4 linked regions of the Homo sapiens genome follow. The protein of the gene in region 2 interacts with the protein of the main gene of each other region in a pairwise test. Each region holds a gene or a part of one and is shown on either strand. Other genes may lie near its edges.

What was found. Proteins that work in one complex are often made in the same cells at the same time.
Region 1: the proteins of RBM10 (region 2) and PRC1 interact in a two-hybrid assay, tested with the Homo sapiens proteins (one large-scale study listed by BioGRID).
Region 3: the proteins of RBM10 (region 2) and PRCC interact in a two-hybrid assay, tested with the Homo sapiens proteins (one large-scale study listed by BioGRID and IntAct).
Region 4: the proteins of RBM10 (region 2) and U2AF1 interact in a two-hybrid assay, tested with the Homo sapiens proteins (one large-scale study listed by BioGRID).

Annotation. Positions count from the first base shown.
Region 1 is NC_000015.10:90,988,036-90,991,535, reverse strand, and holds part of PRC1 (protein regulator of cytokinesis 1), read left to right. Parts: intron 1-2,911; exon of another isoform or gene 2,912-3,500. UniProt on the Homo sapiens protein: Key regulator of cytokinesis that cross-links antiparrallel microtubules at an average distance of 35 nM. Essential for controlling the spatiotemporal formation of the midzone and successful cytokinesis.
Region 2 is NC_000023.11:47,150,963-47,156,409, forward strand, and holds part of RBM10 (RNA-binding protein 10), read left to right. Parts: intron 1-5,447. UniProt on the Homo sapiens protein: Binds to ssRNA containing the consensus sequence 5'-AGGUAA-3'. May be involved in post-transcriptional processing, most probably in mRNA splicing. Binds to RNA homopolymers, with a preference for poly(G) and poly(U) and little for poly(A).
Region 3 is NC_000001.11:156,770,535-156,774,034, reverse strand, and holds part of PRCC (proline-rich protein PRCC), read right to left. Parts: intron 1-3,500. UniProt on the Homo sapiens protein: May regulate cell cycle progression through interaction with MAD2L2.
Region 4 is NC_000021.9:43,101,071-43,104,570, reverse strand, and holds part of U2AF1 (splicing factor U2AF 35 kDa subunit), read left to right. Parts: intron 1-168; coding exon 169-256; intron 257-3,138; coding exon of another isoform or gene 3,139-3,205; intron 3,206-3,500. UniProt on the Homo sapiens protein: Plays a critical role in both constitutive and enhancer-dependent splicing by mediating protein-protein interactions and protein-RNA interactions required for accurate 3'-splice site selection. Recruits U2 snRNP to the branch point.

The sequences.
Region 1 (3,500 bases), on a different chromosome or scaffold from region 2:
GTCTCTAACTAGAATAATAATAATGGGTGTTTGGTAATTCCAAACACCCATTTCCAACAGGCCAAATAAAATACGTTATATATTAGTAAAATTTTTATTTCTTTTTTTTTTTGGAGACAGTCTTGCTCTGTTGCCCAGGCTGGAGTGCAATGGCATGATCTCAGCTCACTGCAACCTCCGCCTCCTGGGTTCACCGGGTTCAAGTGATTCTCCTGCCTCAGCCTCCTGAGTATCTGGGATTACAGGCACCCACTACCACGCCCAGCTAATTTTTGTATTTCTAGTAGAGATGGGGTTTCACCATGTTGGCCAGGCTGGTCTCGAGCTCCTGATCTCAGGTGATCCGCCCGCCTTGGCCTCCCAAAGTGCTGGGATTGCACACGAGCCACCGCGCCCGGCCATAGTAAAAATCTGTAAGTTTTTCAATTAAGTCACAAATCAAAAACATTTCAGATTATGGGCCGGGCACAGTGGCTCACGCCTGTAATCCCAGCACTTTGGGAGGCCGAGGCGGTCGGATCACGAGGTCAGGAGTTTGAGACCAGCCTGACCAACATGGTGAAACCCCGTCTCTACTAAAAATACAAAAATTAGCCGGGCGTGGTGCCGTGTGCCTGTAGTCCCAGCTACTCAGGAGGCTGAGGCAGGAGAATCGCTTGATCCCAGAAGGCAGAGGTTGCAGTGAGCTGAGATCACACCATTGCACTCCGGCCTGGGTGCCAGACTGAGACTCTGTCTCAAAAAAAGAAAAAAAAAAGAAACCAAAAATGTTTTAGATTATGTGCCAAGATGTTTTTAATAACAGCTTTGAGGTATAATCCACATACCATACAATGTACTTAAATTGTATATTATAATTCAGTGATTTTTAGAATATTCAGAGTTGTGCAATCATCACTGCAATCAATTTTAGAACATTTTTATCACCCCTTTAAAATCCCATTAGCAGTCAATCCCCTTTCACCCCATGGTCCAAATTCTCCCCAGCCGCAACTACAAATCTACTTTTCGGCTAGGCAAGGTGGCGCACACCTATAATTCCAGCACTTTGGGAGCCCAAGGTGGGAGGACTACTTGAGCCCAGGAGTTCAAGAACAGCTTGGGCAACATAGAGAGACTCTACCTCTTAAAAAAAAAAAAAAAATTATTTATTTATTTATTTATTTATTTTATTTTTTATTTTATTTTATTTTATTTTTTGAGATGGAGTCTCACTCTGTCACCCAGGCTGGAGTGCAGTGACGTGATCTCAGGTCACTGCAACCTCCACCTCCCGGATTCAAGCAATTCTCCTGCCTCAGCCTCCCGAGTAGCTGAGATTACAGGTGCCCACCACCACACCCAGCTAATTTTTGTATTTTTAGTAGAGACGGGGTTTCACCATATTGGCCAGGCTGGTCTCAAACTCCTGACCTCGTGATCCGCCGGTCTTGGCACCCAAAGTGCTGGGATTACAGGAGTGATCCACCGCACCCGGCCTAAAAAAAAATTTTATTGTTTAAGTTAGCTGGGTGTGGTGGCTCACATCTGTAGTCCCAGCTACTCCGGAGGCTCAGGTGGGAGGATCACCTGAGCCTAGGAAGTTGGGGCTGCAGTGAGCCATGATCATGTTACTGCACTCCAGCCTAGGTGAAAGAGGGAGACCCTGTCTCAAAAAACCATACAAACCCCAAATCTACTTTTTACCTATTCTGGATATTTCATAAAAACGGAACCGTAGCTCTGGTCTTTTGTGACTTGCTTCTTTGACTTAACATAATGTTTTCAAGGTTTATTGCCAAATAATATTCCATTGTATGCCTATATACTACATTTTATTTACCCATTCATAAGTTGATGGCCATTTGTATTTTTTTTTTCACTTTTTGGCTATTATAAGTAATGCTGCTATAAACAGTTGTGTAGTTTTTGTATAAATGTGTTTTCATTTCTTTTGGGCAAATACCCAGTAATAAAATTGCTGAGTTGTATGAACTCTGTTAAACTGAGGGGCCGGGTGCAGTGGCTCATGTCTGTTATCCCAACACTTTGGGAGGCCGAGGTGGGAGGATTGCTTGGGCCCAGGAGTTCAAGACCAGCCTGAGCAACATGGCAAACCTTAAAAAAAAAAAAAAAAAAAAAAATTAGCCAAGCACGATGGCACGTCTATGGTCCCAGCTACTTGGGAGACTAAGGTAGGAGAATTGCTTGAGCCCAGGGCGTTGAGGCTGCGTTGAGCTATGATCACACCACTGCACTCCAGCCCAGGTGACAGTGAGGCCCTGTCTCAAAAAACAAAAAATCAATTGAGGAACTACCAGACTATTTTCCAAAGAGGCTGTACCGTCTTGCATGCCCACAAGCAGTGTCTGAGGGTTCTAGTTCCTCTAGATTCTCACCAATACTTTTTGCTATATATTTTTTTTTATTATACCATCCTGTTGGCTATGAAGTGGTTTTGATTTGCATTTCCCTAATGACTAATATTGAGCATCTTTTCATGTGCTTATTGGCCATTTTTATATCTTCTTTGGAGAAATGTCTATTCAGATTCTTTGCCCATTGTGCTAGATTTTTTTACTCAGAAAAACGATCACTTTACCTTCTAGATGTGTTACAGAGATAGGCAGCCCTGCTTGTAAACCTTCGTCAGGATCCAGAGTGCATAATACCTCTATTAGGTTAGGTAGGTTAGGAGCATAGGACCCTTTGGGAGGAATTCAGGGCCATTCATTTTATATCTATTGAACAACTACTGTGAGTTAGGGTGTGGTAAAATGAAGATGAATAAGATGTGGTGGTCCTTGCCCTTGAGTTTATGGTCTACTAGGGGGCTTGGGGGGAATGGTGAGTGACAAGTCCACAGCTCTCCAGAGGAGGTGGTGGCATATAGACGGAACTGAATGTACAAAGCGCGGTGGCATCAGAAAATGAGAGTTGCATGTGGTTTATTGAGGGGCATTGTTCAGGAAATGCCCGGGAAGTTCAGCTGGCCAGAGACCTGGGGAGTGTCAAGTGGGAGAGATTAGCAGACAGACTCGGAGAGAGGTTTTAGAAGGCCTTTCTACAGAAGGTGGTTGAACTATTTCCTGAGGGCAGTGGAGCCTTTGAAGGGGAGTAGTTAAGCGGGGATCTGATGGGATTTATTATGAACAACTAGCTGTTATGTGGAGATTGGCTGGGCAGGGGTAGGTCTGTCAGACTGAGGAGACTGGGATACTTAAGTAATGACCTTCAGAGCAGTGCCCCTGGCTGGCCTGTCTGGAAGCCAGGGTTTTGCATCCAGATCGAATATTGGCCACAGATTGGATCTTAAAAGTTATTTTTAATAAAATGGTAATATTAGGATTTTAACTTGTGCATTCTTTTGTCTTCAAAATGAAGTGCAAAAGGAGTGTTTGCCTGGGGAAGCTCTTTAGTTGGACTTTAGTTGAGATTATGTTAAATAAATGCCTTACTTACTGTTAACATTTCTCTTTTTTTCCTTTAAGTTCTGTTGGACTTGAACTGTTAACATTTCT
Region 2 (5,447 bases):
TGTAAAGAGCATAAAAAGCTTTCATTTTCATAAATGGAAATACAGGTCTTATGTATTCTTTGTTAAAGTAATCCCTAGGTACTTCAGTCACTTTCATTATCTTTTTTTTTTTTTCTCGAGACTTGGTCTTGCTCTGTCACCCAGGCTGGAGTGCAGTGGCGACCTCCACAGGCTCAAGTGATCTTCCTACCTCAGCCTTCCAAGTAGCTAGGACTACAGGCACGCACCACCACGCCCAGCTAATTTTTTGTAGAGACGGAGTTTCACCATGTTGTCCAGGCTGATCTTGAACTCCTGAGCTCCAGCAATCCACCCACCTTGGCCTCCCAAAGTTCTGGGATTACAGGCCATTATCTTATTTTTTAAAAAATATTTTTCATGCTGGTATTTGCTGGGGTAGAGGAAAGCTGTTGATTTCTGTAAGTTACCCCTGCTGTATGCCCTTATTATTTCTAATACTTCATTGTTGATTCTGATGTTCTTTCTAAGTAGTTGGTCATATTGTATGCAAATCTATCCTGTCACTTATTTATTTTTCTTCATTTATAGTATTGTCCAGGACTTTTAGTACCATATTAAATAGTATAAGTGATACTGGGTACACAAATTAAGATTTACTTTGGCTGGTTGTGGCAGAAAGTCCAAAGGATAATGGCTTAGACAAGATAGTTTACTTTTCTTTCCCATAAAGGCAGTCTGCAGAAGAGCAATTAATCTAGGGCTGACAGGCAGCCCCTTCTGTGTAGCCATCCTCAGCACATGGCAGTTGAGACAGTAGGAAGAAGGGAGAGGAATAAAAGGGAATGTGTCTAAAGTTTCTCCATTAAGTATGGTGCATGCAGTAAGTTTTTAGAATGTATCCTTTAATAAATCAAGAAAATTATCTAATCTTCGTTTGCTAAGATTGACCATAAATAAGTATTGAACTTCAAAATCCTGTGCTTTTTTTCTCCCTTTGTCCATTAATTTCATAAATTGTGGCCTGGCATGGTGGATCACAGCACCTTGGGAGGCCAAGGTGGTTGGATCGCTTGAGGCCAGGAGTTCAAGACCAGCCTGGCCAACATGGTGAAACCTCATTTCTACTAAAAATAAAAAAATCAGCCAGGCGTGGTGAAGCATGTCTGTAATCCCAGCTACTGGGGAGACTGAGACATGAGAATCGCTTGAACCTGGGAGGTGGAGGTTGCAATAAGCTGAGATCGTGCCACTGCACTCCATCCTGGGCAACAGAGTGAGACTCCATATCAAAAAAATAAATAAAAATTTTGTAAATTGCATTAAATGATATCCTTGGCATTCTTGAGCTATACCCCACTTGATCATGGTATGTATGTATATGTTTATGACTTCTTACTTTGAAAATATCTCAAATTTACAGAAAGGTTGCAAGAAAAAGTATAATGAATTCCCATATATCCTCTACTCAGAATTACTTGTTTTAAGTATTTTGCCACATTTGCTCTATCACTCTATATCTTTTTTTTTTTTTTTTTTTTTTTTTGAGACGGAATCACTCTGTCACCCAGGCTGGAGTGCAATGGCGTGATCTTGGCTCACTGCAACCTCCGCCTCCTGTGTTCAAGCAATTCTCCTGCCTCAGCCTTCCAAGTAGCTGGGATTACACGCGCCTGCCAGTACGCCTGGCTAATTTTTGTATTTTTATTAGAAACGAGGTTTCACCATGTTGGTCAGGTTGGTCTCAAACTCCTGACCTCAGGTGATCCACCTGCCTCAGCTTCCCAAAGTGCTGGAATTACAGGCGTGAGCTACCGCGCCTGGCCCACCCTATAGCTCTATATCTTTACATAGACACACACACACACACACACACACACACACACACACACACACGTTTTTTTTAATCGTTTGAGTTGGTGGCAGCCATGACTTTTCTTTTTGAGTCAGAGTTTCACTCTTGTTGCCCAGGCTGGAGTGCAATGGTGCAATCTCGGCCCACTGCAACCTCTTCCTCCTGCATTCAAGCGATTCTCCTGCCTCAGTCTCCCAAGTAGCTGGGATTACAGGCATGCGTCACCACACCCAGCTAATTTTGTATTTTTAGTAGAGACAGGATTTTTCCATGTTGATCAGGCTGGTTTCAAACTCCCGACCTCAGGTGATCCGCCCATCTCGGCCTCCCAAAGTGCTGGGATTACAGGCATGAGCCACCACATCCAGCCTGACATGACCTTTTAAGTCTGGCAGCATGTACGTCTTAAGAACAAAGGTGTTCTCTTCCATAACCACAATATACTTATCAATATCAGGAAATTAAACAATTATATAGTACTTTTATTCTATATAAAGCCCATATTCAGATGTTATCACTCTTCTCAATAATGTCCTTTATAATGGTTTTCCCCAATCCAGGATCCAGTCCAAGATCATGTATTGCATTGAGCTCCTTGTCTCCTTTAATCTGAAACAGTTATTCTATCTTTGTCTTTTATGACCTTGTCATTTTTTTTTTTCCTGAACCTATGGATTATATTGAAAGCATGTTTTAAAGTTAGTTGTTTTATAGAATGTTTCTCAGTTTGGATTTTTCTGATGCTTACTCATGAGTTTTTGGCAGAAATGTTATTTAAGTGATTTATGTATATTTTTAAAACCTTGTTAGATTTTATTAGCCATTGTATCATCTAGGATATCTACACCTGTATTTATCAGTGAGGTAGTCCAATATTTTTATTTTCAGTATTTATCTGGCATTGGAATCAAGGTAGCCTCATTACATGAATTGGGCAGCCTTTGTTATTCTCTCTTTATTGGAGAAACTTGTATAAGAATTATCTGTACCTCGAAAAACTTGGTAGGACTCACCTTTAAAAGCATCTGGAGGCTGGGCGCAGTGGGCTGAGGCAGTTGGATCACTTGAACCCAGGAATTCGAGACGATCCTGGGCAACATGGCGAAACTCTGTCTCTACAAAAAATACAAAAATTAGCTGGGCGTGGTGGCAGGTGCCTATAGTTCTAACTACTCAGGAGGCTGAGGCAGGAGGATTACCTGAGTCTGGGAGGTTGAGACTGTGGTAAGCCATGATCATGCCACTGCACTCCAGCCTCAGTGACAGAGTGACACCCTGTCTCAAAAAATAATAAAATAAAAGCATCTGGAGCTGGTTTTTGATTACCATTTCATCTCTTCTGCCAATTTTAGCATTTTATATTTTCTAGAAATATACTCATTTTGTGAAGATCCTCATATATGATGATTCAGTCCAGCATCCTAGAAATGCTTTATAAAAGGGATATGCCTTTGGAAGGTGTTTGTTCAGAGTGCTTTGGTGGCCAATTAAAAATATTCCTTTCTATCCAAATATGTTCCCTTCCTGAGTTTAGATAGCAAGAGTTCAATACCTGAATTTATTTGGTTTGGATATTGGATGTCAAGAGAGTTCAGGATAATTTCATCTGAAAATTTATAAATTTATTCATATCTGTTCAGTTCTTGATTTTTTTTCCTTTTTTTTTTGTTTGTTTGTTTGTTTGTTTTTGTTTGTGGAGATAGTCTCACTCTGTCTTCCAGGCTGGAGTTCAGTGGTGCGATCTTGGCTCACCGCAACCTCTGCTTTCCAGGCTCAGGGGATTCTTGTGCCTCAGCTTCCTGAGTAGCAAGGATTACAGGCCCGTGCCACCACACCCGGCTAATTTTTGTATTTTAGTAGAGACGGGGTTTCACCATGTTTGCCAGACTGGTCTCGAACTCCGTACCTCAGGTGATCCACTCGCTTCAGCCTCCGAAAGTGCTGGGATTACAGGTGTGAGCCACCATGATGGCCCAGTTCTTGAATTTTGATGACTACAGTTCAAATTGATTGTATCAAGAACCTTATAACTACTCATACCACTGACAGTGATTTCTTCTCTAGGCATTTACGGTAGGGAAACAATTTGGGGCCAGGTGTGGTGGCTCACGCCTGTAATCCCAGCACTTTGGGAGGCCGAGGCGGGTGAATCACGAGGTCAGGAGTTTGGGACCAGCCTGGCCAACATGATGAAACCCCATCTCTACTAAAAATACAAAAAATTAGCTGGGTGTGGTGGCAGGCACCTGTAATCCCAGCTACTCGGGAGGCTGAGGAAGGACAATCGCTTGAACCCAGGAGGTGGAAGTTGCAGTGAGCCAAGATCACGCCACTGCACTCCAGCCCGGAGGACAGTGCGAGACTCCCTCTCAAAAAAAAAAAAAAAAAAAAAAGAGTTTGGGTTCCAAGCTGAGTTCGTGGGGACAGGGACTTTATTTTGTTCACAGCAGTATCCCCATTACCTAGAACAGTACTTATCGTATAGCCAATGTTAGGTTAATATTTGTTGAATGAATGCATGAACAAATAATTGTTTAAAAAAATGGAAGTCAACCAAAATGTTTGAAAACATGTTTAATGGATATTTGCCCCATTTGTTACTTATCTTTATGGTGTTTTCCATAGTTTAGTGTGAAATTTCAAGCATGTAGCAAAGTTTAAAGAATTTTACAATGGGCCTGGTGCGGTGGCTCATGCCTGTAATCCCAGCACTTTGGGAGGCTGAGGTGGGCAGATCACGAGGTCAGGAGATCAAGACCATCCTGGCTAACACAGTGAAACCCCATCTCTACTAAAAATACAAAAAAATTAGCCGGCTGTGGTGGCGGGCGCCTGTAGTCCCAGCTACTTGGGAGGCTGAGGCAGGAGAATGTCATGAACCCGGGTGGCGGAGCTTGCAGTGAGCCGAGATCGCCACTGCACTCCAGCCTGGGCAACAGAGCGAGACTCCATCTCAAAAAAAAAAAAAAAAAAAGAATTTTACAATGAACACCATATATACCCATCCACTAGATTCTTTTTTTTTCTTCTTTCTTTCTTTTTTTTTTTTTTGAGATGGAGTTTTGTTCTTGTTGCCTAGGCTGGAGTGCAATGACACAATCTCAGCTCACCGCAACCTCTGCCTCCTGGGTTCAAGTGATTCTCCTGCCTCAGCCTCCCGAGTAGCTAGGATTACAGGCACGCGCCACCACACCTGGCTAATTTTGTATTTTTAGTAGAGACGGCGTTTCTCCATGTTGCTCAGGCTGGTCTCAAACTCCCGACCTCAGGTGATCTGCCTGCCTCGGCCTCCCAAAGTGCTCGGATTATAGGTGTGAGCCACCGTGCCCAGCCCACTAGATTCTACTATTAACGTTTTACCATACTTGCTTTATTACATATTTACTTCTAAGTTTCTCGTATTTTTTACACTCTATAGAGATTTATAATTTTTACAAAGCCAGATTTATTCATTTTCCTTTTATGACTGCTGGGATTTGTCTTGCTGAGGAAGGCCTTCCCCACTCTTAAGGTGATACATTTTTTTCTTATGTTTTCTAATATTTGTTTTCTTTTTTTAAAAGTTCAACTTTTATTATAGATTAAAGGATACACATACAGTTTTTTTTTTTAACTCAGTGAAGATGTCTGCACA
Region 3 (3,500 bases), on a different chromosome or scaffold from region 2:
ACCTCATATAAGCGCAACTATAAAATATTTGTCCTTTTGTGACTGGCTTACTTTACTTAGCATAATGTCTTCAAGGTCTATCCATGTTGTAGCACGTATCGGAATTTCATTCCTTTTTCAGGTTGAATAATATCCTAACGTGTGCACATACCACATTTTACCTATTCATTTGTGGATGAACACTTGGGTTGTTGCCACCTTTGGCTACTGGGAGTATTGCTACTATGAACACTGGTGTACAAGTATCTGTTTGAATCTCCACTTTTGATTCTTTTCACCTAGAAGTGAAATTGGTGGATCATCATTCTGTTTGTTTAACCTTTTGAGGAACTGCCAAACTGTTTTCCTCAAGAGTATATTAAATGGAGGTTGTGGAGTCAACTTCTAGAGAGTGCTAAAGACCAGCAAATGGCCATCTGAGTGGGTCTGTGCCATTAGATCAAGAAAGAAGGACAATGCTAGAAACACCGGAGCATCCAGGGCTGAGAGTGTCCCGGGCCACAATAGGCACACATTGGTTTTGAGGCACAAACTGTTGAGTCTGTTAATAAGAAAGTATTGTATTTCTTCTTGGCCTCACGAGAACCTGAGCCTCAATGGCCACCACTGTCCTCTCTGTTCCAGCTGCCAAGAGTGACAAGACACACATACCCCGAGACTGCTGAGCAAGAACGGAAACAGACATTTTCCATTAAGCTAGGTCCAGTGGGATCTGCTAATCTATCAGAGCCTCATTCCCCACGGCGGCCTCTCTCTTATCTTCCCAGGCTCTGGCTCTGAGACACTCCCTCTCCAAAAAGCAATCACTAGCTTCCAGGACTAAAAGCCAAGGAGGAAATAAGAACCCAAGAACAGACGCCCCCTAAGCACCACACCCCGGGGCTCCAAACCCTAATCATTACTACTGTTATCCCCATTTGCTACATTCATCAACCCTTTTTCACTCTTAAGTCTCAAGTACCTGCTGCTAGGATACCGTTTTCACTCCCATTTTTGCACTCCTCATTTGTATTGCTTTCTGCTTTCTGGCTGCCCCAGGCTCTTCCATGTTTTCCATAGACACCCCGATAAACACAACAAATCTCATCCAGGTTCAAATACAATTGCAGCTACTCACAAACTGTGTTTTCAGGCAAATCACTTCTGTTCTCTAAACTCCTGTTTTCTTCTTTATAAACTAAAGTAAGTGCCCAGCACAGTTCAGACATTAAGCAGGTGCCCCACACAGATAAGCACACTCTCCCTTCCCTTTAGCTAGGGCTAAAACTTAGCTAAATCCACTGCAGGCAATTCTTATTTGGTTACTAGAAGTGACAAAAATTAGTGAAATCTGTCTCAGAGCTTCAAATTTTCTACTATCTTGGTAAACAATCTGAAAGTGGTGGTAAATACTAATCCAGATAACCCTGAAATTTCTGTGTGCTTTGGAATACACTTTATAAATGATAGAAAACTCTTCCAGCAGACTTATTCTTCTGATTTTGGTTTCTCATATGCTAGGAGAAGTCTGCCTCCCCTGAGCCTATGAAATCAACCAGTGTAGCTTGGGTCACAGCAAGAAGGGAAAAAGAAAGGACGATTATCCATTCTATGGATCATTCCTAATTCCCCACAAAAATCAAAAGCTGACTGAATTTAATTTTGGAATACGCCTGGAGGGAGAATTTGGTACTACGCTGACTGCAGATGATTGGATAATATGACCCAAATCAAATCAACCAAATTCTCACTCCAGGAAAACCAGAATTGAGACTACCATCATAGTTCAATCTGGACTGATCTCTAAAAGGAAAGAAATCAAAACCAAGGTGTGGGTGGCCATCCTTCACCTACAACAAAGGTTAAGAAGCCAATCCGCAGAGAAATAATGAATCAAGGCCAGAAGCAGTGGCTCACGCCTGTAATCCCAGCACTTTGGGAGGCTGAGGCAGGCAGATCAGTTGAGCCCAGGAGTTTGAGACCAGCCTTGGCAACATGGTGAAACCCCATCTCTACTAAAAATACAAAAATTGACCAGTCCCATAATCTGGTCTCAAAACAAATAAATAAATAAATATATTAAAATTTAAAAATAAAACAAATTTTTTAAAAAATGAATCAGATGTGCAAAGAACAGCTGTGTAGAGATCCCCAACAGATCTCAGGTTCCTGATGCAGGTCCCTTCTGAGGTACCACAGTATATTTATGATGCATTACCATTTAAGGCTAGGCGTGGTGGCTCACATCTGTAATCCCAGTACTTTGAGAGGCCAAGGCAGGAGGGCTGCTTGAGCTCAAGAGTTCAAGACCAGCCTGGGCAATGTAGCGAGACAACGTCTCTATTTATTTAAAAAAGAAGAAAAAAAAAAAACATTTAAACTAGCTTGAGTTGGCTTCTAACACTTGCAACAAATGAAATCTAACTAACCCCCAATCTGCTCTGCCTCCCGTATTCCCTCAATAAATGGCAACACCACCCCCCAGCTGCCTGAGGCAAATGCAGTGGGGGTCAATCTTGAATCCTCTCCTTAGTGTAACATCTAATCAATCCTCCAGTCTTATCACTTCCCCCTCCTAAATATACCTCGATGCTCCAGTTCTCTCCATCCCCTAGTTCATCATCCAGGCCACCAGCCTCTCACATTCTGCCAGTCTTGCTCCCTCCAAGGTTCTCACCACTCTGTGATCAGAGAATTCTTGCCTTTAAGGGGTCTTCACAACCCCAAAATGAGGTAGAAAGACCCTAGCATGGCATCCAAGGCCCATTATCTGGCCTGAGCCTCTCTCTCTCTAGCCCCATTCTCTCAGCACTCCCCACCCTCTCAAATGCTCCAGCCACTGTGCTTTACTCACCTGAGGTTCCCTGAAAGCACTGTCCCTCTCTGTCCTCCAAGCTTTTATACATTGTTTCCTCTGCTGTGCTGCTCCCATACTACCCTTTCTTCAGCCTTATCTCTGCTTAGACATCTCCCCCCAGAGGGCTCCCCAACCTCCCAAGACTGGACTAATGCCCACTAGGTATACTCCAATGGCACCAGCTTATCACGGTCCTTCTCTGCCTTGTCCTAAAATCTATTTCCTTCTGTGTTTTCTCCAGTAGATCATAAGCTCCTTTCGGGCTGGGGCTATCATGTTCACTACTGTACATTCTTAGCTCCAGGTACAAAGAAAGAGCTCAATATCAATTGAACGAAATGGTTGAGAGTTAATTACTTCTAATTACTTCTACTTCAGCACCAAACTCTAAAGGGAAATTATTTACTTAAGGAAACCTAATTCATTCTTTCAAATGCGTACTAAGAGCCTAAGTGTAAGACATAGAGCTCAGAACTGGAGGGGCTTACATCTGGAGGGGGCACAGCTCTTTTAAAGACAATGGTTGGCTGGCGTGGTGGCTCACACCTGTAATCCCGGCACTTTGGGAGGCCAAGGTGGTCAGATCACCTGAGGTCAGGAGTTGAAGACCTGCCTGACCAACATGGAGAAACCCCAGTCTCTACCAAAAATACAAAATTAGCTG
Region 4 (3,500 bases), on a different chromosome or scaffold from region 2:
GTCCTAAAATACAGCAAGGAAGAGGAGGTGCTTAATACCACGGAAAAAAGTCTGTGTCATGTTTCTGTGAGGTTAAAAGTAATTTGATAGTGTATGTCATGCTGCTGACATATTCCATGTGTTTGATATCTTCCCAGCAAAATAATCAGCTCTCATTTTCCCTTACAGAGTCAACTGTTCATTTTATTTCAAAATTGGAGCATGTCGTCATGGAGACAGGTGCTCTCGGTTGCACAATAAACCGACGTTTAGCCAGGTTTGTTTGCCTTTTTTTCATGTAAATTATAAAAACTTCATGTTCTTTTCAAAGACAGTTAATTTCTACATATTAAGCAAGTCATTTTTTCTCTCGTAGTTGTATTTTCCATTTGTGTTCATAAGTGTGTTCTTTTATTTAAATAATAGTGAGGCAGGTGATCGACTTCCAGTGGAAGGTCTGAGACCACCACTCCTTGTTTTTATCATTAGAGAAACTTTAAAAATCAGTTTTTGATGTTTGTGTGTTGGCTGTGCCTGATATTTGCTGCCCTGCCATCTTCCCTACCCCCTCTGATAGACATGGGTCCAGAGGGGGTGGCCGTGCCAGCCTTGGGTTAGCCTCCTCCAGGCACCAGTGGACACGGAGTGGGCTTTCTGCTCTTTGCTGTCTCCAGACAGTAGAGGTGATGGAGCCACCTTCCAAGTTAGCGTGATTGTCACCAGGCCCATCATGCTGCTCGAGCTTCTCTGGCTGCGTCCTCACTTTCACATCCCTAGCTGAGGAAACAGCGAGTCGCATCACGTCATGGAAACATGAAAAATTAAGCTGAAAGGTAGAAAATGGGCCGTAAATTGCTCTTAGCGGGTCTGTTTGGTTAATTGAGGAGTGCCTGTTATCTTGGGCTTAGATCCGCTCTGAGTTCAGTTCAATCAAAAGTTGTGAGTTTTGATAGTTTTATTTTTGGTTAGTTGAAGAAAAGGCAAAGGTTGGTACACTATAAAGGATCACTTACGGATTAAAGGGAGAAGGCACCTCTAATCGGAGCAGAAAACTTGTGCCCACGTTGATGAGAACATTTGAAATTTGAAAATCGATGCCCAAGTCTTTCCAGATGGAGGGCTGGGGAACTCCTTCCAACCCACCCTTGAAGTCTAAATGTGCAGCCTCTGAGCTGTTGAGTAGCTATTATGCGTGGTCCCTGGGAGCTGCCAGGCTCTGCCTTTGAGCTCACATCTGTCTGTATACGTTTTCCTGTAAGCATTTAAGAAAATCTACCACTTTGTGTAAGTGAGCTGGGAGAAGGAAACATGGGTTTTTTCCGGTTGAAGCCCATGGACGACCCCACAGCACACAGTGTTTTTAGAAGGGAAGAGGATGATGGCTTTTCCCTCCATTATGCTAATTACCAAGTGGTTAGTATAATAGCAGTCTGTCTTTTGATAGCTCTGAACATGAGTTTCTTTTTACAAATTTCAAAATCTTGGAGAACTAGCTTTACATTTTCTGTGTATTGCAATTGTTTTTTCTTTAATGTTTTGATTTATGAACCGAATCTCCCCTAACTAAACCAGTGGCCATGGATTGTGGTATAACCAAGCATCTTAAGTGACCACCCAGTTCTTTGATTTTGGGGGGTGTCCCAAGTGTTGGGCTGAGAGAAATCAACTGTTCCCTATTCTAAAAGTTTTCTTTAATCTGGCTGGAGGCACTTTCTTTATGTTTTTCTGGATCATAGATTACCTGAGAATGTGAAATGTGAAGTTAATTTAGGCATTCCAGGTCAGTGCTGGGGAGAGCCCATTGGAGCTCGATGGGGTCAGTAGTATGTGTCAGCTTAAGCATCCTAGTTTGATGCGTGGGTTTGTTTTGGTTGGTTTTAGGCAATCCTAGCCACCCTTGGCTTTCCCATTAGACTGCATTGCCTCTTTACGTTAAGCTTCCTTCATTAAATAGCCACTGCCAGAATACCTGAGTGAGACCAACTGAATTTTACTGTTGAATAATTGGGCTCAGTTTAGCTTTTCATCAGGGTTGTCATGGTACGGTCATTTCAGTTCAAAGCTGAGTCAAGTCAGCTTTGGGAAGCCTCCCAGGCCTGAGTTCAGTTGACTCAGGGCTGTACTTGGCGGCTTATGGAAGAAACGGGGCCCTGATGCAGGTCTGAGTGGTTCAGTGTGGACAGTTTGTCAGACCTCCCTCTTAGGTGGGGTGGGCTTCCCAGCTGCACACCTTTGACTGAGGAACTCTTCATACAACCACTCCCCTTTAAACAGAGCTAGAAATGGAGCTGGCTGGTTTTATAAAACCACCACTTACAAAACTGCTTCACGTGGATATTGTTGAGACTAAACATTTATTTTTCTAAATCATGCGAGTGATTGCTTTAGCTTGTAAATCTCTAGCATAATTCAGGGTGGGTTTCTTTATAAGCTGCTTACAGTGATATGGACGTTAAGATTCATGTAATATATTAGCCTACTAACTTAAACATGGTTTGTTTTTTCAGACAACTTGATTTTAAGAAGAACGGTACAGTGTAAGGTTTCAAGTCTGCCTGATCCAGTTTAAAGCACAAGGGCTAAAAGGATTTTTTTTCCTTAAAAGAAGGATCGGAAAAGAGCAAATGTTTTAAGCTATTGTATTATGTAAACAGAGATCCCACCAAGAAAGTGTAAATCAGAGCCGGGTGTCCATGACAGTTGACAGACCTGTTTGGTGTGCCTGTTTTGCTAGGAGACCAGAGAACTTGATGTACTGCAGACAGCTGAGTTACGCATTTGGTTTTGAAAAATTATCTTGTGTGAGGAATATGATTATAACGTGAATTTTTCCACATCTTGGTGTCTGCTAGCTTGAAGTACAAGAAAATATTAGTATTCTACTATTTATCTTGCATTAAAACACTTTAACATTGAAAACGTGGGACTAATCAAAACAATACAGTTTCTTCTTGGTTGCTGGCTGACTTGACCCAAGTCACTGCTCAAACTCTGTTTTCATAATATGATGGTTTTGGTGTACTCTTCAGAAGACAAATGTCTGACTTGCGGGAAAAAAACAAACGTTTAGCCATTTGCAAACAAATTGTCTCTTTGCAATTGTCTAATATATGCACAGCAGCCAGTAGAATTCCCCTTTTTATTTTTTTTTCCCCGCAGACCATCTTGATTCAAAACATCTATCGTAATCCCCAAAACAGTGCACAGACGGCTGACGGCTCACACTGTAAGTCCCACAGTTGGAGAAATTTTTTTAAAACAATGGTGTTAAAGAGCCCACTCTTAATTGAGACAAATAATGTTGGCTTCTGAGCTGCTGACATAGAGCTGTTGCAAACAGGACAAGGTGCTGGAACTCCTTGGCGCACACAGCAAGAACTTGATACTTGGCCACGTTCAGGAGGCTTATCCCTTCTAGGGAGGGTCACTGGCCCGGCCACCTCCATTGATTGACATTTGTCATGAGAGCAGGTCCGTCCATGTGAAACGGATTTCAACATTTTGAGCCATTCATTGGTCTT